Linked DNA regions of Homo sapiens: all the other regions are reported to be linked to region 1. Evidence: microRNA targets listed by miRTarBase, many of them from high-throughput screens and not tested one by one. Region 1 holds a microRNA gene; each other region holds the end of a gene's coding sequence.

Region 1 (7,205 bases):
GTTAAATTTTGATTAAGTAAAATTTGTCAACTTTTTCTCTTATGGATCGTGCTTTTTTTGTCAAGTCGAAGGCTTTTTGGGTAATTGTAGGTCCTGTCTTCTACTTTTTCCCAAGAGCTTTAAAACTGTACATTTTACATTTTGTCCCTGATCCATTTTGAGTGAATATTTGTACGATGTGTGACGTTTAGGTTGAAGTTCATGTTGTTTGCCTTTGGATGGTCAGTTGTTCCAATGCCATTTGTTGAAAAAGCTATCCTTTCTCCATTGAACTGCTTTGGATCTATGTCAAAAATTAGGTGAGCATATCTGTATGAGTCTGGATCCTGGATTTTTTTTTTCTTTTCCACTGATCTATGTGTCTGCCCCTTTGCCAATACTATGGTGTCTTGATTGTCTCGATTACTCTAGCCATACAGTTACATGTTAATAATCAGCAGAGTAATTCCTATATTTTATTCTTGTTTGTCAAGATTACTTTAGCTATCGTAGGGTCTCAAACTTTTCATATAAATTCTAGAGTAAGCTTGTCTTTCGCAACGAAAACTTTGCTGGGATTTTGATAGAAATTGCATTAAGCATATAGAGAATTTGGCCAGAACTGACATCTTTACTATGTTGAGTCTTAAACTCGGTATGTTTTTCCATTTAGCTCCTTGATTTCTTTCATTTAATCTTTAATTTTTGACAATTTAACTATGATGTATCATGGTGTCTCTTTGGATTTGTCATCTTTTATGTCTTATGGGTTTCCGGGATCTGGCTTTCTAATGTCTTCCTGAGACTTCGGAAGTGTTCTGCCGTCATTTCCTTGATTATGTTTTATATCCCTTTCTCTGTTTCTTTTCCCTGTGGCACACCAATAATGCATAATTTGTTCTGCTTAATGGTGTCCCATTGGTCTCTTCATCTATAATTACCTCTTTTTATTCTTTTTTGTTTTTGCTTCTCAGACTGAATGATTTCCAGTGATCTGTCTTCAGGTTCACAATTTTTCCCCCTGATTGTTCTAGTTTGTTATTGAACCCCGCTATTGAATTTTTTAATTCAGTTATAGCATTCTTCAGATCTATGATTTCCATGTGATACTTTTTTATACTGTATCTTTGTTGAAGTTCTCAGCTTGTTCTTGGATTGCTGTCTTGACATCTATGAGTAACCTTATGGCCATTATTTAGAATTTTCTGTCAGGTAAATCACAAAACTCCACTTCATTCAAGTATGTTTTTGGAGATTTATCTTGTTACTGTTTGTTTTGTTTGTTTGTCTTATTGTTTGTTTGTTTTGTTCCTATTTCTTTCTTTTCCTTGATTTTCAGTATTGGTTTTTTTACATTAGGTAGAAACCTACTTCTTAGTAGACTGAGATTGCATAGAAGGTTTCTACCAGTCCGTTTGACTAGAGATTTTAAGGTGCCCCTCTTATTTCGGTGTTTGTTCAGACTGCTGTGCCTATACCAGAAGGTCTATGACATCTTATAGTACTAGAAGTCTTATCATGACATTTTTGTTAAAAACTTAGAAATTGATTTCTGAAAAGATTTTACAAATGTAGTGAGGTATTTTCTGTATTTTATCATACTAAATAATCTCCAAATAATCTGATAAATGAGCATAGTGTTCAGAAAAAACCTCTTTTAATGTGATGAATCTTTTATAGATTTAGGCATATTTATGGCAAACCGACTATGCTGTATCAGTCCCCCTTCACACCCCCGAGGCTCAACTGAGATTTACCATTGGAATTAATTGTGAATGGCTTTGTCTCAGGACTATAACATATTCCAAGCTAGAGGTTTCAGGAACAAAGCGTCTGCATCTGTCTTTGTCTTTAGCCCTCACGTGAGGAGCCCATTTATTAGCCTTCTTTATTAATTTTTTATATGGAGAAGTGACTCAACATGTACTAGACAGCCAAATAAATTACTGATCATCTCCTTCTATGCACAGTTTCATATTACCAAAAACTATACGCATATATGAGTTAAACAATTTGGTAATATGTTAACAACATAATATCTAGAAGTATCTCACCACTTAAAACATACGTGCACAAACACACATATTCAATCTTGTTGGCTTTTATTTGTTTCAATACTATAATTCTATTTTTGATATCCCTTCAATTATAATTTAGTTTCCATTGTTATGATATATAAATATATTTGTGCATAGACTATTTGGATATTTTATATTTGCATTAACTAAAAATTTTCACCGCATTTTTGCATGCATAATTTTGTTCTATTTCTTTCTCAATTTTGCTTTAAAAAGTATCTTCATTTTGCAGATGTGCAAGCTGAACAGAGGATTAGAACTTATTTTTTCTAAAAATCTAACAGTTAACTTCTAGCAGCATTGAGACCAGAATATAGATCTTCTGACTCCAGGCTCTTTGCGGTAAACATCAATCCCTCTGTGGCTAATGTCCAAACACAAGATGAAAGAAAACGTGGAGCAGAATACAAAAGGAATTATTTCATGCTGCATTCAGAGGTGTCATTCATACCCAGGAAGCACTTTTAATTACCAATCTGGTGTTAATTTTCTTATCTGTGTCTCATCTGTGACTAAACATTATCCAGCCCAGGCTGATAAATTCTGATATGAATCAGATATTATTTCAAATTTATGCTTTAGCCATACCCATGTAAGCAGTCTCCTACCCCATATATCTCATTTACAGAGACTGTTTATTTGTAGTTAACTTTTAAAAATTCAGATTCATAGAATTACAACTATAAATTGCCAAACATGTATAGAATTATTATTATACAGAAAATAATATCAGTGTCATTATATCCAATTAATCTTTCATTCAGAATCTTGTGCAGAACAGATTAAATTGAGAACTTAATTTTTTACACATTCACGATTTAACCAGAGAATGTGGCTCTATTTTATATTAACAAATAATTTCTTTGTTTATTCAATAAGCAGTATTCATTGTATTATTAAAAAATGGTCTACTCATAAGGTTTTAAAACAATTGAGTCTATTTATTTCTTTTCCCCTCATGTGTTAATATTTTTTTTGCCTAGTGCTTTAGAAAATATATGACCTAGAAAGCAGCCTAATTCTTGTCACAGCTGCAACCTTACTGATGCAGAAAATTTGGCATTTATATACAATGAAGCTGTCTCTAATGCTTTGTCCACCTTCTAGAATCCCCTTTGTTTAATTACTATGTTTGGAGCCTCAAAAAGGGCCTGCTTTCAGGAATAAGTGGATGGGAATGAGGGGATGCTGATGTGTGAATAAAACGGTGATATAAAAGAAAATGGCTAATTCCCCCCTCTGGCTGAAGTCTGTGGAGGTTGTTCTGCCTGTCACTGATAGCTGTGTGAGTCAGTCTCCAATTTGGGAATTACAATCCTGACCCACCCCCACACCAGGATTGCCCCTGCTACACGTTTCCATGGTGCCAAACTTCCCTGTCCTAGCACGTGATGGCAATTGCTTCTGCTTTCCCTGATAGATGTGCAGGGTTGGGGACAATGCTTGCCTTCCCAGAGTCACATCAATATCTCGCACAGAGCTGGCACATGGCGGGCCCTTCATAAATGCTTGTTCAATGAAAGAATAAAGACAGTTTAAAATTTGAGCTCATTTCTGCCTTTTTCTTTTTAATAGCTTTATCAAAGTATAAATTGATAGACAGAAAAACCCCACATGTATTTCATGTGTACAATTTGATGAGCTTGGGTATACATATACACCCATGATATCATCACAATCAAAATGATAAACATATCCATCGCCTCCAAAAGTTTCCTCTGCCCCCTGCTTTTTGTGGCAAGTGTACCACAGAAAACTTGAAGCCAAACTTGTGATCCTTCGTTGTTCCATTTCCAAAGCTATTAGGTTGGTGCAAAAGTAATCGCGGTTTTTGTCATTACTTTAATTACTTTACGTTTCATTAATGACAAAAACCGCAATTACTTTTGCACCAACCTAATACTTGCTATCATCACTTCTTGTCTATTTTCCATTCCTCTTATAAATGTTGTACAAACTAAATCACACTTAAATAAAATAAATGGGAAATAAAGAAAAAGGAAAAAAGGATGAATGCAGGGAAAAAACACTGCCTGGGTCTGTCTTCTGTCATTCCCCAAAATAACAAGCACAAGCCCTGATATTCATATTCCCAGCATTCACCAGTTGCCCTTTTTTTTTTTTGAGATGGAGTTTCACTCTTGTCGCCCAGGCTACAGTGCAATGGCGTGATCTTGGCTCACTGCAACCTCCACCTCCCAGGTTCAAGCGATTCTCCAGCCTCAGCCTCTCGAGTAGCTGGGACTACAGGTGTGCACCACCATGCCTGACTAATTTTTGTATTTTTAGTAGAGATGGGGTTTTGCCATGTTGGCCAGGCTGGTCTCAAACTCCTGACCTCAGGTGATCCGCCAGCCTTGGCCTCCCCAGATCCTGGGGTTATAGGCGTAAGCCACCCTGCCCGGCCCAGCTGACTTTTATCTTGAGTGACAGTTTTAGAGAAAGGAGGAGGAGGAAATTAGTATATATGGCAGTAGTATGACATTTCATGATCTTAAAAATAGATTTCACCAACTGTAGAAGGTGTTCCCTAAACTAACTGCCTGTGTAGTCTTAATCTTCTCAACGTAACAACAGGTAGTCCATATTGTGGCAGGGTTGGGAGGTGGTGATGGAAAGGGGAGGTGTGAATTCCACAAGGTCTGAGACTGGGACAGGAAGTCTCCATTTTGGCAGTGCTGGTGGGGTAAGAAAGGGCTAATTAGAAGAAAATGCAGAAGCTGAAGTTGAAAGATCAGGCAAAGGCAAAATACTGGTCTAGTAGGAAGTCCAGATCATGGTCAAGTTGGATGGCTTCAGAGGGAGCTATTCAGATGGGCTCCAAAAGTGTCAGCGATCTTCTCTGATAAGCTACCCAAGCTCAGGGCAGGGATACTGATGCTCATTTTATGGTAAGAGCCAGCAAATGAGATGCACTGATTCCACGTTTGTGGATTCTAAACAGCATTTTGCCTTCCTTCTCTATAGTCCTCTTTGCAGCACTCCACGTTACCACCACGGGCATCCCAGATGTTCCTCCTTCATAAACACCTCTAGTTGTTCGCTTTCCCAACTCATCCCTTTTCCCAGCCTCAAGGAAGATAAATCAGTTTTGGGCATTAACTTCCATCCAGTGCACTGGGCTGAGGAATCAGCATGGCTGATTCTGCTATCACTTTCACGAAGCCTGGGGGCAAATGAGGGGAGTAGGGAGGGGTTGGGACCAGGGCACACACATATTGTGAATCTAGGAAGAATCTTAGGATTAAAGCTGTTGCATTTTCCACTTGTATTGAAGCCTTGGGGGTAATGGCTATCCCTTTACCACACTCTCCACCTGACTAAGCTCTCTTCAGCAGAACAATCAACCCAGGCTATGGCTGACTTCATCCAGGGAGACCTAAATTTTTCCATTTACTAGGACTTCTTGGACTTTTTTTTTTCTTTTAATAACCATATAGTCAGCTTTACCCACAATGCATCACCTCTTGTCATCCTCAGACACAACGTGAGACATAAGTTGCACTGACCAACTGAATCCTTCTAGTCTCATCCTCTCCTCTGAGATCTTCCTACTGCTTCTTTTACTATTAAGTCCTCTAGAATCCCTATGCTATGAAAAACACAATCCATACAATTTCACCCTGAACATCTCCACTTGGACACAATAGACATCTCAAACTTAACATATCAAAAACAGAACTCCTTTTTTTTTTCTTCTTTTTTTTTGATACAGGGTCTTACTCTGTCATCTAGGCTGGAGTGCAGTGGCGCAATCTCGGGTCACTGCAGCGTCCACTTCCCGGGCTCACGCGATTCTCTTGCCTCAGCCACTTCAGCAGCTGGGATTACAGGTGTGCACCACCATGCCCGGCTAACTATTGTATTTTTAGTAGAGATGGAGTCTTGCCATGTTGAGCAGGCTAGTCTCGGACTCCTCAAGCCATCTGCCCTCCTCAATCTCCCAAAGTGCTGGGATTACAGGCATGAGCCATTGTGCTGCCCTAGAATTCTTTATTCTATTCCAATCCTTTCCCCAATCTATTTCTGCTTCACTTGGCTTCCTATTATTGAACAGTTACACCATTCTTCCAGCTGCTCAGGCCAAAAACTTTGGAGTCATCTGTGCTATCTTTCTTATTTTCTAACCCACATCTAAGTCCTCAGCAAGTCCTGTTGACATTTCCTTGAAAAATACAGCTCAAGTTGAACTGCTTCTCATCACCTCCACAGCTACCCAGAGGAAGCTGACGTATGTTCTCCTAACTCAGCCCCACTTTTTCTGTTTTTGTTCACCTATGCTCTATTCTGTTCCCAGCTACTGAAATGATCCTTTTTTTTTGAGACAGAGTCTCGCTCTGTCGCCCAGTCTGGAGTGCAGTGGTGCAATCTTGGCTCACTGCAAGCTCCACCTCCCAGGTTCACGCCATTCTCCTGCCTCAGCCTCACGAGTAGCTGGGACTACAGGCACCTGCCACCATGCCAGGCTAATTTTTTGTATTTTTAGTAGAGACGGGGTTTCACTGTGTTAGCCAGGATGGTCTCGATCTCCTGACCTCGTGATCAGCCCACCTCAGCCTCCCAAAGTGCTGGGATTACAGGCGTGAGCCACTGCACCAGGCCGAAACAGAATTCAGAGCATCTTATTCTTCTGTTTTAAACCTCACAGCTTTCCATTTCACAATTAAAAATTTTTACACCCTTACTTTGATATATAAGGCCTGTCTAATCTGATTCCCAGCTATGTTTCTGACACATCTGTGTGATAATAAATGGGTAACACCTGGCTCCCCATATGCCATCCTGGCATGAATGTTGGTTGATATTTTCATACATGTTAACAAGTAAGACAAGAGTAAGAGAATAAAGGAGTGTGTTGGAATTTCCCCATGTGTCGACAACAAGAGGATGTTCTTTGCCAAACTGGATAACAGTTTTCAAATACTGGAAGAATATTTCCTCAATTTTTTGTGCTGTTCAAATGTAGCATGAAACTCTTCTACATTTAATCTGAATTATTAACATTTTCTCCACCTCTTCCTTAAGTCTAGGCAATCAACAAAAATTAAGGTATGCCTTGATTTGTACCATTTGTCCATTTCCATTGTGTAATTCTCCTACGGTGGCTGATTTCAAGCTAACAAGTCAACCACACTGAACTCGGAGCTG
Region 2 (7,205 bases), not on the chromosome of region 1:
TGTGAAATACAGTATTTGTTTCTTAAAAGGCAAAAATCTTAGTCACTCAGAAACAGAAAGTAAATGAACTCTAAAAGCATTTCTGGGTTGTTTTTTTGGTTTTGGTTTTAGTTGTTTGTTTTTTTGAGGCAGAGTCTCACTCTCTCACCTAGGCTGGAGTGCAGTGGCGTGATCTCGGCTCACTACAACCTCTGCCTCCCGAGTTCAAGCAATTCTCTGCCTCAGCCTCCCGAGTAGCTGGGATTACAGGTGCCCACCACCACACCCGACTAATTTTCTGTATTTTTTTGATAGAGATGGGGTTTCACCATCTTGCCCGTGCTAGTCTTGAACTCCTGACCTAGTGTTCCACCTGCCTTGGCCTCCCAAAGTGCTGGGATTACAGGCGTGAGCCACCATGCTGGCCATCATTTCTGTTTTTAATATCTGCAGTGCCTCAAAGTGTTTACATTTTATCACTCTGTATCCATCATCCTTAATGCTTAAAAGCTTTAGAAGTATGTTATACATACTTCTGCTGTAGCATTTATTTTCATATTTGTAGTCCTAGCTTTGCTGCTAAACCATGAGCTCTTGGAATGCCAGAGGCAAAGTTATCTTGCACGTCATTGTATTCTTAAGCACCTAACAGTATGTCTGGATGCCTTTTTTCTGATTGATATTACTTCTTGGCCAGGATAGAGAAATGGTTAAGTTCTCACATAAAATTGAAGAGTTTTCTCAGTTTTGAAAAGCATATTGGGTAGAAAAGAAGAATTTCTTTGGAAGCATTAAGGACACTTTGTATTGTCATTTTCTTAGACAGACTTATGGTTCAGTCACCATGAGTTATCATTTCTGTATGCCTACTCATCTTAAGATTGTCATACCTTAATCCTAATAAGAGAACAGCTCAACAAGTAGGTAGGTGAGATTGTTACTGGCCAGTATTGGAAAAAACTTTATATATATATATTTTGTGTAGTAGGCAGATCTCAAACTGACAGTATGCTGCATTTTGAATCTGGAGATAAAAGTTGCATTGATGAAAATGGAATTTAATAGTTTTCCTAGAAATAATAACACATAGCAAAATTTTATATATGTGAGGCATCTTATATAAAGGGACTTTACTTGAGTTGGTGCAAGTGAGTCATTCTAGCATTAGGGATGGGGCAGAGGTAGTTATCTTTCCTTTGAGCAGTGGACCCAGGAATATCCAGAAACAGATGGTATGTGCAGAACAGGTTGTACAGGCACTGTTTTAAGCACAGCTAAGTAATACCATGAGTGAAAGTCTACTTTTACCTATAGTAGAATCGTGTTGCTGATTTTTGTGGCTTCTGTTTTCTTTTTTAGGATGTAGAACAAAAGAAGAGTGGAAACTACTTTTTCTTGGATGATTAGACTGACTCTGAGAATATTGATAAGCCATTTATTAAAAGGAGTATTTACTAGAATTTTTTGTCATATAAAACTTGAATCAGGATTTTATGCCCCACATACTCTGGAACTTGAAGTATAATATACTTAATATAACATAAAAAGCCAGTTGGGTTCTAAATTGTAGTTGAAACACAGAAAATGCCACTTTTCTGTTCCTGAAGAGGCTCTTTTGTGCATAATATTCTAAAATGAAGACATTTCAAGCTATACAAATTACTTCCAAGTTTTCATGATGTATGGGAAGATTTTCAGTAGGTGTATTATATTCACGGTACCAAATGCTGACCAGTGTTGCTCCATTTTTTAAATCTTGAAAAGGGTTTCTGTACTTACCTGGTTTGCCAAGTATGCCAGTGTAATGAAACTGCCCTTATTTTAAAAGCCAGTCAAAGATTCCACTGATTGACATTTGATAAATAAACATCAGGATTATGTTTATTGTTTGTTTTCAGTCTTTGCACTATATTACCAGTATATGGTTTCCGAGGAAGATTATCTACTGCAAAACACCACTGTTGGAAAAATAGGTATTTTTAAATTGTTTTTAATCTTTTTTGGTGCTTTTAAACATGTTTAGCAAAAACCAATTCAGTTCCATTCCCCGCAAAAAACCCCTAACTTTACTCTGAACTTTTTTTGTTTTTGCATTCCATGAGGTTCTGTATTCAGTCATTCTCTAGGTAATGTCATTTTTGTACACATATATTTATATAATCACTGATTGAGATTTAGGAAAAAGCATTTCTAAAGAATATTTGCTTCCCTTAGAACTACAGACTCGAAATCTTTAAAGATGGTGCCTAAGCATCTATGTATTTTTTTTAAGTTCCACAGATTTTTCTGTTGGGCAGCCAAGGATTATAAACCACTTCCCTAAAGGCAACATTAATGCAAAAGTCCCCAGATGGCAATACAAAGTATCCCCTGGTACCACATATATTCATTTGTGAGTTTGGATATAGAGCACATTATCTAAACCATTTTGTAGTTCCAAAAACCCATCTAAATTTCTTGAGTTCCTGAATTTTGAACAGGATTACCTGGAGCCTGGAGCCACTTTAAGTTGTACTTCTGACTAAACTGGAATTATGAGTGAGGAAGAGTGTTTACTAAATAAATGACTGGGGCAAGCAAAATTGAGGAGGAAATTAGAAACTGTTTGACAAACTTTAAGAGCTACTTGAAATAACAGAAGTCTTGATTAATATGCAAATAATGGCTAGAAAGTATGGTTTAACTGGACCCTATTATGCCTTTTAAAAATAATTTCAGTAACCCATAAATACATGTTGTAAAAAATTCAAATATACAGAATGGAATAAAAAAATGATCTCCCTTTATTACCCTCCCAAAGGTTACCAGCGTTTGAATTTAATAATGTATATTCTTTCATGCTTTTTTCTGTGCACTTACCTAAGTGTGAATATGTAAAGGGTTTGTTTTGTATACAAATGGGATTATACTAAAATAAGTAATGCCTATTTTTAAGGATAGGTTAAATTTGTGAATGATCATTTCAAATATATTGAATAAAATAAGCAAAAGCTATTGTTATTTACTGATCCTGGATTGTCTTAAAGAAAGTACTTGTGATATAAGAGCACAGTTCTACTTACTGCTAATGACAGAATATGTATTAAACGTATTTTCATGTAAATGAAATCTTTAAAATATGTATCTTAAAATTTTACATAGCAACAGAAAGGCCTACAATTGCTAACACAAGAAAAATACTTATAAAATCAGTATAAAATCAATGCAGATGTTAGCAAAAGAATGAGACTACTTCATATGTCCTAATTGGAAAAAGTCTCAAATACTTAAAAAAACAAAAAACTGGAACAGTTTATTATACTACCATTTTTGTGAAAATATACAAAATATTGAAATAAAGGAATACTCAAGAAACAGATTGCTTTTGACAAGGACAATTTGATCAAAGAATAGACGGGAAAAGGAGACATTTATATATACACATATATAATACCCTTTGAATTTTACACTTTGCATGTGATTATAAATCATTGAAATTTTGGGGGTTTTTTTTTGTTTGTTTGTTTTGAGATGGAGTCTCGCTCTGTCACCCAGGCTGGAGTGCAATGATGTGATATTCACTCACTGCAACCCGCCTCCTGGGTTCAAGCAATTCTGCCTCAGCCTCCTGAGTAGCTGGGATTACAGGCACCCACCACCACACCCAGCTATTTTTGTATTTTTAGTAGAGACGGAGTTTCACCATGTAGGCCAGGCTGGTCTCAACTGGACCTCAGGTAATCCACCCGCCTTGGCCTCCCAAAGTGCTGGGATTACAGGCATGAGCCACCGCGCCCAGCCATTGAAGTTTTTAAATCGTCATTGGATAATAATAGTGGCATCTGTAGCCACTTCTCTCCACATTTGAGATAATACTGGATAATCCATATTTTCTGTGTTCACTTAGTGTAGTCTTAAAGGCAGTGTATTGATGCTACAACTGTTTTTTGCAATTTAGGTTAACCTAATTTTAGACTACAAGCATTCTGAAGTCCAGTCTTGTATCTGTCTTAACACTCAGTATATATAGCATGGTGTCTGGCATGTAGTGGCCTACTGTATTGAAGGAATGAACCTGCATGCCACAGAGAAAGTAGGAAGACTACAAAACTGCTGTGTTGTATAATTTCCTTCATGTTCATCAATATACTTGGATACAGGTATGTCAAGTCCTTAACCCCAGTGCCTAGTCTGCTGTGAGCACTCAGTGAGTGGTTCAGAAGAGAAAGTAATCATTCTGAGTTGGAATGTCAGAAAGGACTACATAAAGGAATTAGGTCCCAGGAAAGAGTAACAGCACCCATCTTACTGAGTTGTTAAAAGGATAAGTGAGATAATCTACCTAAAGCAAAATACATGTCTGGTGAGAGGCAGAAAGGAACATGGGCATTTAAGAGATTAATGGAAGGAAATGATGGATATGGGCAGATTGTGATGAGCTTTCTGTGCCTTCCAGATTGAAGTTAGTTTTTTACATGCTGAAAGTAGTAGGACTTGAAGAGACAAAGCAAGGCCAGTTAGAGAAGCGGAAATATCCAGACAGTAGTTGTTCCGGAGCTTCTACTTTAATTTTTCACCGCTTTGTCTTAATTTTTTTAAGCATTTCTACTCTGTCCACTTAATACATGCAGGTCTAAACTTGGCTGTATACTGTGCTGACTGTTGCTCTTGGAAGATTGTTTCCTTTGTAGTGTTTCAGTTTGTGAGCAGATGTTCAGTGAGGCTGTATCTGAAAATTCTGAGATTTTGTGTGGCAAATATCATTTATCCTCAGCCCTGTACTCACCACCACTACCACCTCCTCTGCCAATGCCCAGTCCCACGTGGTTGGTCATAATTGGTCTAAGACATAGAAAATCCTCTTCCATACTTTCCTAGTCTCTTGCAGTTAAGCCATATGACCTAACTGCAAGAGAGTTCTAGCCAGTAAATTGAAACCTCTTGAGGTTTTTCTAGAAAATACCTCAAGAAAACCTCGTTTTCCTAATAAAGGGAGATTATCATCTGGTACTGCTTCTTGAGGGTGTAATATATGGAGCAAGCATTTCATGCCCAGAAGGTGACACATATAAGGGAAATGCAAAACAAGCTACAAGAATGTTACTCCTGACATTAAAATGCTGCACAACTGCCAGCAGCCACTTCTCTCCACATTTCTTGAGAAATAAATCCCTATTTGTTTAAACCTGGTTAAGTCAAACTGGTTTCCTGTTTGCCATCAAGAAAGGTCTTTTCCTTGAGAGGCTCTCCATTTGCCTTCTGCCAGGGGAGCCAAGTGTGTTACCACCCTGGAACCACTTTTCAGTTTTCCTAGTTTGTGAGTTTCTGGACCTCAAACCTAAATGAATGTGGTAACATTTTCAGTGGTTGTTTTGTTTTTTGCCTTTAAGAAACTGGATCCCAGGCCAAGACAGTTTTGTCTGGGAATTTTTAATTTCACTCCTTTTCGCTGGGGTGACTCTGGCTTTAATGAAAATGTTAGTTCCAGCTCCCAACCTTGCATGTGCCTAAGTATAGGTCTCCCATGTCAATGGTCACTTTATATCTGTGCTTCTGGTTTCTTGTCTCCATTTATAAAAGTATCTTATAAAACTATACAGGACTTAAATGCTTTTACTACTAGTTTGGAAGGATGCAACAAGTAACAAATATATCCCTAGATAGGTAAATTGCAGTAGTTTGTTTTCTATTTGATCTGGAGGTCGTTAGTCCAAAGTCAAGGTTCTCATTTTTTTTAAAAAGAAATTGGCTTACTACACAGAATTTTGTTATCAATCGGTTAACCTGCCAGTTCAGTTAAGAATATTCATAGGGATAGGAGGCCTTAAGAACCACACTCATCTACATTTACATCTTTTTTTTTTTTTGAGACGGAGCCTCACTGTTGCCTAGGCTGGAGTGCAGCGGCACGATTTTGGCTCACTGCAACCTCCGCCTCCCAGGTTCAAGTGATTCTCCTGCCTCAGCCTCTCCTGCCTCAGCTGGGATTACAGGTGCGTGCCACCATGCCCGGCTAATTTTCGTATTTTTGGTAGAGACAGAGTTTCACCATGTTGGTTAGGCTGGTCTCGAGCTCCTGACCTCGTGATCCACCCGCCTCAGCCTCCGAAAGTGCTGGGATTACAGGTGTGAGCCACCACGCCTGGCCTACCATTAACATCTTTAATCTTTGTAATGCTTTTTACTAAATGTGAAAAATAAAATATAATTACAGGAATGTTATGTATTTTTAAAGGATTGCCTCTAAAGCCCCAGTTTCTCTAATGAATTCATTATAGAAAAACCAGTTTCAAAAACTGATGTTTATACCTATGTCTGTCTGTAGCTTTTCTTAGAAAACCCTATTAAACTATTCTGAGGGGTCCACGTTTCATGAAGAACTCACAGATTAAGTTAGGGTGCAAAAGTTTATGAAGGGAAGCTGTGTTTAACTTCCTCTTTCATAGTTACTTACATTCTCATACTATGCCCTAGACCCAGACCTAAGTCTTTGAATGAAAAGGGAAAGTTTAATTATTCAAAGTGAAAAGCAGGCCCTTTGTATCAGACACTTTTTGGAGACCGCTGACTTAATTTGGGTCACTGCCATGCACTTCTGGAGTGACCAATTCTGCAAGAGCCCCCCATCCAGCCACAAACACACCTCTTACTAACCAGCCCCAACACTGGCTTCTCTTATTGACTCCATGGATAAACCCACGGGCATACTGCCAAGAACCTAATGTTTCCTTTCTCCTTCCTTTCTCCCTTTCCCACAAGGTTCTATATTTTACTCAGCTCCTAAAGCAGTCTCAAAAGTTCCACATGCCAACTCTCGTTACCTTTATAACAGCTCATCCTCCTTCCCAGCCTGCTGACCCTGTTCCTAGATCACTCACTTTTCTGTCAAATACTTGAACTGAAAGAGGCTCTTGTTTCAGGTTCGGCCTCCTGAGGAAGCCAGGCTAACAGAAAGTTCATATTGTATGTAAACAAGTATTGACTTGATAATATTCTTTGGTAACTTTTATAAAGAAAAACAGGCTTTAAGAAATTGAGTTTTCAGAGTATAAAGTAAGTATACTTTGTTTTCAAAACACTCAATTTGCTTTCACCTTTAGCCAACATAAATATCACTGAATGCTAAATGTAAAAACCATTAAAAAACAATTTAATCCATATTCTTAGATATTCTGCACATTCCCATTTAGTCATTGCAGAAAAAAAATGGTAGCACTAGCTATAAAATCACTTAAAACTAGACTCAA
Region 3 (7,205 bases), not on the chromosome of region 1:
CTGGATCTTGGTGTATGACTTTGCCCGCTTTTTTTTAAATGAAACACTTTATCCCTAACTTCATTCTCCAGTCCACCCATTAACAACTTCTTTGATCTGTTGATAGATATCTACACCTCCATCCTCACAGCTGTATGTGTGTATGGAAGATATAATTTAACATTTGTTGCTATTATTCTTTGCTATTTGCTATTTCCATAAAGGTCCTAATTCCTGATCTCACTTACATGTGGAATCTAAAATAGCTGAAGTCATAAAAGGGGAAAGTAAAAGGGTGGCTGCCAGGGGATGGATGTGGGGAAGGGAGGGGAGATGGTGGTTGGAGGGTACAAAGTTTAGTTAGACAGGAGGAAGAAATGTTTTAGACCATTGCGCAGCATGGTAACTATCATTCATAATGTACTGTATATTTCCAAATTGCCAAGAAGGTACATTTCAAATGTTCCCTCCACAAGAAAAATGCTAAGGATGTGAGGTGATGGATATGCTAGCCAGCTTGACTTTATCATTCCTCCTGGTATACTTGTCAAAATATCACATTGTACCCCATCAATATCTATAAAATTTGTCAAGTAAAAATGAAAATAAATTTGAAAAAGATCTTAGGCCTACTTTATTCTAATGTAAAATATGATCTGTAGAAATTCTACTTTTAAAAAATATTTTATTCAATTATATCCCCTCAACTGGTTTTATTTTCATGGGAAAAGTTTTCAGTTACTGAAGGTGATAAATCTCTGAAACAAGAACTAATCCCATACCTAGGATATATTAATTAATTAAATGTCTTCACTTACTTACCAGTGGCAGAGAAATGTTCCAAAAATTTTAAAAAGCTAAAAATCTTTTCACTTTGCTCTTATAATATTTGAGAATTTTCACACAAGAGCTTGAACTCTCCAATCTAAGTAGGACAGAAATACCTGTGTCATATTAATTATGTTAGAGTTAGGTGAACATAGAGAATGGTCCCCAAAAACAATGCTGTCCACACTTTGAGTTTAAGAGTTGTTCTAGACGTATTATGGTGAAGTGGTCATGCATCACCTGTGCTTTCTTATTTGCCTCTACAGGGATGCCAGATGATATGAACTTCAGTGATGTAAAGCAAATCCATCAAACAGACACTGGCAGTACTTTAGACACAACAGGAGCAGGATGTGCAGTGGCGACTGAATCTATGACATTCACTCTGATAAGTGTGGTGATGTTACTTCCCGGGATTTGGTAACTGAACTCTTCTGTCCTGACATACCTTACTGAAGTCTCGATTTCTTCTCTCTCTGCATATGCCTGGAATAAGAGATCCTTTTTCAATGTAACAATTATATTTATGAAAAGATATGTTACACTAACTTCTCAGAAGCCAAGCTGAAATATTCATAAAGTCCCTAAAACTCAACGTTTAAATGACACACTTTAAAAATATGTCTTTTTTCAATCTAACTGAAAACCTTCTTAACTTCTAATATATTAAATCTGAAGATGTGAAGGGCACAGAAGTGACTTTGAATAAGAAGAATTTAGTGTATCTGTAATTTTATTATCAATTCCAAGCCCCTTCCTTTCTAAATTAAAAATGTTTTCATTTGAAAGTGTATTTGCCAGACAATGAAAACAGTATGCAGTATTTCTTAAAGTATTGAAATTAGAATATCATGAAATAAATCAAAACATACAATGGCAAGTAGTATGCATGCATATTCAAGAGACTCTTCCATTTTTGCAAGCTGTAGAAGGAAATGTCTGAATGTCTATAAGTTATGGGGTAGATTCTTGAGAAGCATTTCATATAATTTCACTGAAGAACCTTGATAATTTTGACCCACTGTAACTTAGCCACTGATGAACCTTAAAGCTGAGTATTTTATTAACACCTGATTTGTATTCCATTATATTCAAAATGCATCTTTGGTATTGTGCCTCTGCTCCCATCTCTCTCTTTGCCTCATAGATTTAGCTATGTTGGGAAGCACATGCTTGCTCTAGGAATATCTCCAATAAAGCTGTTAACTATTTGGTGGAAAAATTTGAAGAATATTTGTCATTTTCTTCTGGCAAAAATGCTATTTTCACCCATTTTCAAAATATTATGTACTACTTTTTAAAGCCTGATGTTGTACAATTGGCTACCTTTGCATTTCTAAGGTTCCTATGAATATCTGCAGACATGTACAGAAAAGATGATATGCAACACTTTAGCTCTTTCCTATTTGCTCATTAATGGAGCTGCAAACCAACAGTCCCTAATTTCTCAGTTGGGATAAGTTGCCTCAATAGACACTAATAGGATATGTATATGGCTATACTTGAGGAAAAGAGAAGTTAGTTTTTATTAATAAGTATCACATCCAGTCTACAGAGAGAAAATATAATTAATACAAAGTCACAGAATAGAAAAGGGAATTGCTGACCTCAAATAAAAAAAAACAAAAAAAAATTTGAAATGACTTCTGACAAAGACGTAAACAAGACACAGCCAAATGCAAACATTAATAAGGTAAAATCCGTTTCTGCTAGTCAGGAAACAATATATGATCAAACCTTGTTCTCGCTTAAGTTCTCAATTAACAAAATGATCTAAGGATGGTTAGTTTAAATCACAACATTTTTAAGCTGCCCAATCAGGTTTTACCCTCCATTCAAACATGCCTCAGAACCGTAAGTGTTATTCTACCCATCAGTTGTGGATGCCATTTTCCTAGGCTTCCATTCCACACCTAACATTCCCTGATCCATTCAGTTAATAACTCATTTGCACTCACCTTGACACACTCCACAAATTACAAACTTAACCCTATTTTGAAAATTTTTTACTTCAACCTCAGCTCTTCATTTAAATCAGTCTTGGAAAAAAGTGATACTAAGGCACTCATTTGCTGCCCTCCAGCCCAAGTCATGATTGGCTTGCTACGGCAAAATTTCAGACCCAACTTAAGAGGAATTTAATTCTAAAGACAAACAAACTGAAGAGCATGCTTTAGCAGTCTAAGATATATGGATAAAATTAATTGACAGAAGATAATTTCAGATATGGCAAGAAATGGACAAAAGCAGAGTGGTAAAGTCAATACAAGAAATGATTATTTTTTTTTAAACTAAGTTTTACATGCTCAGATGGGTGTTATCTGCAGGTGGGCACTTTGGGGACTATATAAGCAATAATGGTGTTACTAGAGCTTAAAACACTGGGGTTTTCAGAATTTCTTTAAAAGCCTAAGGCAAAATTGTTAATATTCTCAGTAAGGATATACTTATCCATTAACACTTCCCATTCTGTGACATTTCATATCTACATAGTTTCTTATGAATTGCAAAGCTCTTTCAAATGAGAGAGAGTATCTCATTTGGACTTTCTTCGCCCCCTCAAAGATAGGCTTGATTTTCAGTCAAATAAAAACAATAATGCTGATTTTTTATATGGCTCAGAATTTGCTTCTGGAGAGTTTTTCATTAATAAGGTCTAAGAAAGTTTTGAGCAATGATACAAGTGTTGGATATGTGTCTACTTTCCAAGATTATTTAATAGATTACATCAGACTGAATGTATGTATTTAAAAATATCACACACATAGTCACATTTTATGCTGGTGTAATTTTTAAAAGAGCCATATTCTTGAATCCCGGAGTTATTTTTATGAGTTTAAGTAATCATAAAACTTCGTCTGATATTTTGCATATATTGGGGAGACTAGGTTTAGAAGCAGAACTAACATTTACTTGGCCTTTCTTTGTATACGCACCATGATAAATGCCTTGATGCACAATGTCATTTAATCTCCCCAAAAACACTGACATTTCCATTTTACCAATGAGAAAACTGAGCTTATAAATATTAGGGAATTTGACAGATGTCATACAACTAATCATAACAGAGTTAGATGGTGAGTATGATACCTTTAAATAAACTGTATACCTTTCTGGTTCAAAGATACAGTTTTGGAACAACAGCGAGGAACTACAGGTTAGCACAAAAATCATTCAGAGACTACTTAAGTCTCCAAACTAGGATTTAACAAATACAGTTGGCTATAGAATAATTGTCTAATTACCAAAATGCACATTAGTGTAGAAACATAATAAAAAGGAGAAGTGTAAACATGGACTTTTTTTAGTACCATTCATTACCCTCCCATATATTCAAACCCACTCTAAACACATCAGCCCTGAAAATAAATCAGCTGCCGAGAATGAGAAAGAAAACACAACTGTTTTAACTCTAATGGGATCATGAAGTTTATTTTAGTTTCCTTTGCAACAAAAAGGTATAAAACATTTCTTTGGCTATAGGATGGCATAAAAAAATGAAAGGAAGGAGAGGAGGAAGGAAGGAAGGAAAGGAGGGAGGAGGGAGGGAAGGAGGGAGGGAAGGAAGAAGGGAAGGAAGGGAAAGGGCATGGCAGAAAATTATTTTTTAAATCTTAGATTTGCCTTTATCCTCTATTTATTCTGTGAATAAATAATGTCTGCATGGTTACAGTACATGGTACAATAAAATAATGTCTGCATGGTTATCTTCTCACTAAAAAAGGACTGAGGTTAATAAGCTCTTTCCTCCCAACACTCAGATTTTCTGAAGTGCTCAATAATGATGCTTTGAAAAGGACTAAATTCATTTATTACTAACTGTTTGCTATCATATAAAATATTGTTTCTAACATCAGAATCCTTCAAGGACAATAAAAATGATTTTTTTCTTGAATGAATATATTCAACCTAGACGTCTCTTATTCTGAATGAGAACTTTGTTGAGCAGGCTACATCACTATTGTATTTAGTTTGCAACCTTTAATGTCATTCATATACAATTACATGGGTTATGAAAATTCAGAAATAATAATTTCTAATGTTGTTAGGTATGAATGTGAACATATCAAGTTTTTCTTTAAATGCAGATTGTTGTATACAAGTCATTTTTGATTAAAATACAGATAAAACATATTTCTCAAGTCAAAAGTCTGCTTTCCTTGCCTTTAGTAAAATTACAGAGTGACTGAATTACTGTTATAATTACTTTATGACTAGAGATCTAATCAAATATAATTCTTAAGCTATCCTTTCTGCCTCCTTGCACAGAGAAAACTGAGTAATTTCATCACAATATAATTTATATTTCCATAGCAGAAAACAATAACTTATTTGGAAGAGAGTAGAGTAGGAGTGGATGTCCATGGTTACTTTTTGGAAACATCTGATTTAAGAGACTTTTGCCTTCCTGCACTTGCCAATTCTCACACTGGAATCAACTTCATGAAAATGTGTGTGAGAAGATCACGCATCTTATTTTCCCCTTAAAATTTTACTTTGACTACATTGAAGACCAGAGTGAAAGACAATATATCAGAATTTGAAAGACCATAGAATTAAGAACAGAACGGTGAACATTTAAGGATCAAAACTGGTTGGAGACAGAAGGAATGGGACTGACTGCAGTAATAAGTAAATTCTTACTTTTATGAGTTTGATACCCACCTTTAAACATGTTGGATTGGAAGGAATGAAGACTCTTAGAAAAAAAGGGAGGTCTCTGATTTTCCTGAGATTACTCAGCCAAGACCACTAGCATAACAAGAAGAAAGAAAAACGAAGAACAAGAACAAGAAGGCCCAGCTGTAAGACAAATGCTGTGAACGGTATAGTATGTTCCAGAAAGAGTGACTCCATAATTGTGATCAAAGAGTTCCAGGACCCAATTTGCAAAGTCAATGTGATTTGCTCACCCAGGGCACATTCTCACTTCTCTCCTTGACCCCCCCACCCTGCCGCTCCATCCATATACATACTCATTCCCCACATACATTTTCTGGCTACTGTCTCTATTTCCTTTCTCTTTTCTTATCTGTAAAAATTGAGATAACTGTATCTACCTCACAGTGTTACTTAGAGAACTAGATAATCCAACACCTATTAGGACCCTGCTGGCCCATGATGAGCCATAATGATTCGTGTTTGTTCCCTTCCCACAGAGCTTTCTGTTAAAGTGCACATGTTTCCAGGATGGGACAACACTAGAATATTTAGTTATGGATTCTGCCTGTCAATAAGTTTTTGATAGGGGAAGAGATCTGTGTTAGTCTGTTTTCATACTACTATAAAGAACTACCTGAGACTGGATAATTTATGAAGAAAAGAGGTTTAATTGACTCACAGTTCTGTAGGTTGTACAGTAGGCATAGCTGGGAAGGCCTCAGGAAACTTACAATCATGGTAGAAGGCAAAAGGGAAGCAGGCACAATCTTCACATGGCAGCAGGAGAGAGAGAGTGAATGGGGAAGTGCAACCCACTTTCAAACAACCTGATCTTGTGAAAACTCACTGTCAAGAGAACAGCAAGGGGAAACTCCAGCCCCATGAACAAATAACCTCCCACCAGGTCCCTTCCTAACACTGGGAATTAAAATTCAACACGATATTTCGGTGAGGACCTGGAGCCAAACCATATCCAGAGCGTAGAGAAGATGGTTGGAGAGTGAATGAGTAGGGTTCAGGAAAGGGAAAGAGAAGAGAAGCAATGGACTCTGGAATGCACAAGAAACCCATACTGCCTGCTTCATGTTTCATGTTTTGCCTGGACTCATCCTGGCTATGAGGCTTATTCACTGAAAGTTTATTTTTTTAAGTATTGGGAGTAAGTGGTCTTTCTTTCATTGAATATAAAAGGATATTAGCTCTGACCCAGTATTCAAATGTGAATTGGTGTCTACAATGACAAATTTAGAGACCTCCAAACCTTGCTTGAAGGTCTCCTTGACTGGTGTATTTAGACCTCCATCTCTGTGGGATTATTATACTGTGGGTTACCAGTACAACCCAAGCGCGGTGGGAAGAACAAATATGAGTAAACAAGAAGTGTGTTGCTCAGTATCTCACCTAAGTTACCCCCAAGTGGTTATTTCTGAGAGGCAAAATCACTTCATTAAGGTCACATTGCCAGTGATAGACAAAGCAAGCATTCTAAAATCAGCCTTCAAAATCCTTTTTTCCACTGCACCACTCAGTATCCCAGGGTTCAGAAAACTTTTGATAGGTCAATTAGGTTAGGTTAGGCTACTTGAAGGCTGTATAGGCTATTTTTAAATGTTCCCTTGTTTTATTCACTTTCTAAAATGTCTTCTCTCTAAGATATTTTATTTTTCATTTGTCTTTCATCTCAAATTTAGCTCTAGTAGTAAGGTTGAGGATCCTGAGGAGATTCCATATGCCAG

What was found. The annotated mature microRNA hsa-miR-548h-3p reads CAAAAACCGCAAUUACUUUUGCA and lies in region 1 at 3,926-3,948, shown strand. An mRNA with a match to its seed (bases 2 to 7 or 8) in the 3' UTR can be bound and repressed. Matches are read on the target gene's strand: a 7mer-m8 pairs with bases 2 to 8, a 7mer-A1 pairs with bases 2 to 7 and ends in A, and an 8mer does both.
Region 2: miRTarBase lists ABCE1 as a target of hsa-miR-548h-3p. Seed matches in the 3' UTR shown: 7mer-A1 at 1,966-1,972.
Region 3: miRTarBase lists GPC5 as a target of hsa-miR-548h-3p. The part of its 3' UTR that is shown has no 7-base or 8-base seed match.

The regions. Positions count from the first base shown.
Region 1 is chr8:27,045,614-27,052,818 of GRCh38, reverse strand. MIR548H4 (microRNA 548h-4) reads left to right here and starts at 3,856; the gene lies at 3,856-3,966.
Region 2 is chr4:145,126,188-145,133,392 of GRCh38, forward strand. ABCE1 (ATP binding cassette subfamily E member 1) reads left to right here. Exons shown (of 18, transcript NM_002940.3): 18 at 1,339-3,337. The coding sequence ends at 1,386. Among named protein-coding and RNA genes, the nearest start is that of ABCE1, 31 kb to the left of the region's middle. RefSeq lists an enhancer at 1-184.
Region 3 is chr13:92,865,209-92,872,413 of GRCh38, forward strand. It overlaps GPC5 (glypican 5), which reads left to right. Exons shown (of 8, transcript NM_004466.6): 8 at 1,074-2,029. The coding sequence ends at 1,231. Among named protein-coding and RNA genes, the nearest start is that of GPC5-AS1, 150 kb to the left of the region's middle.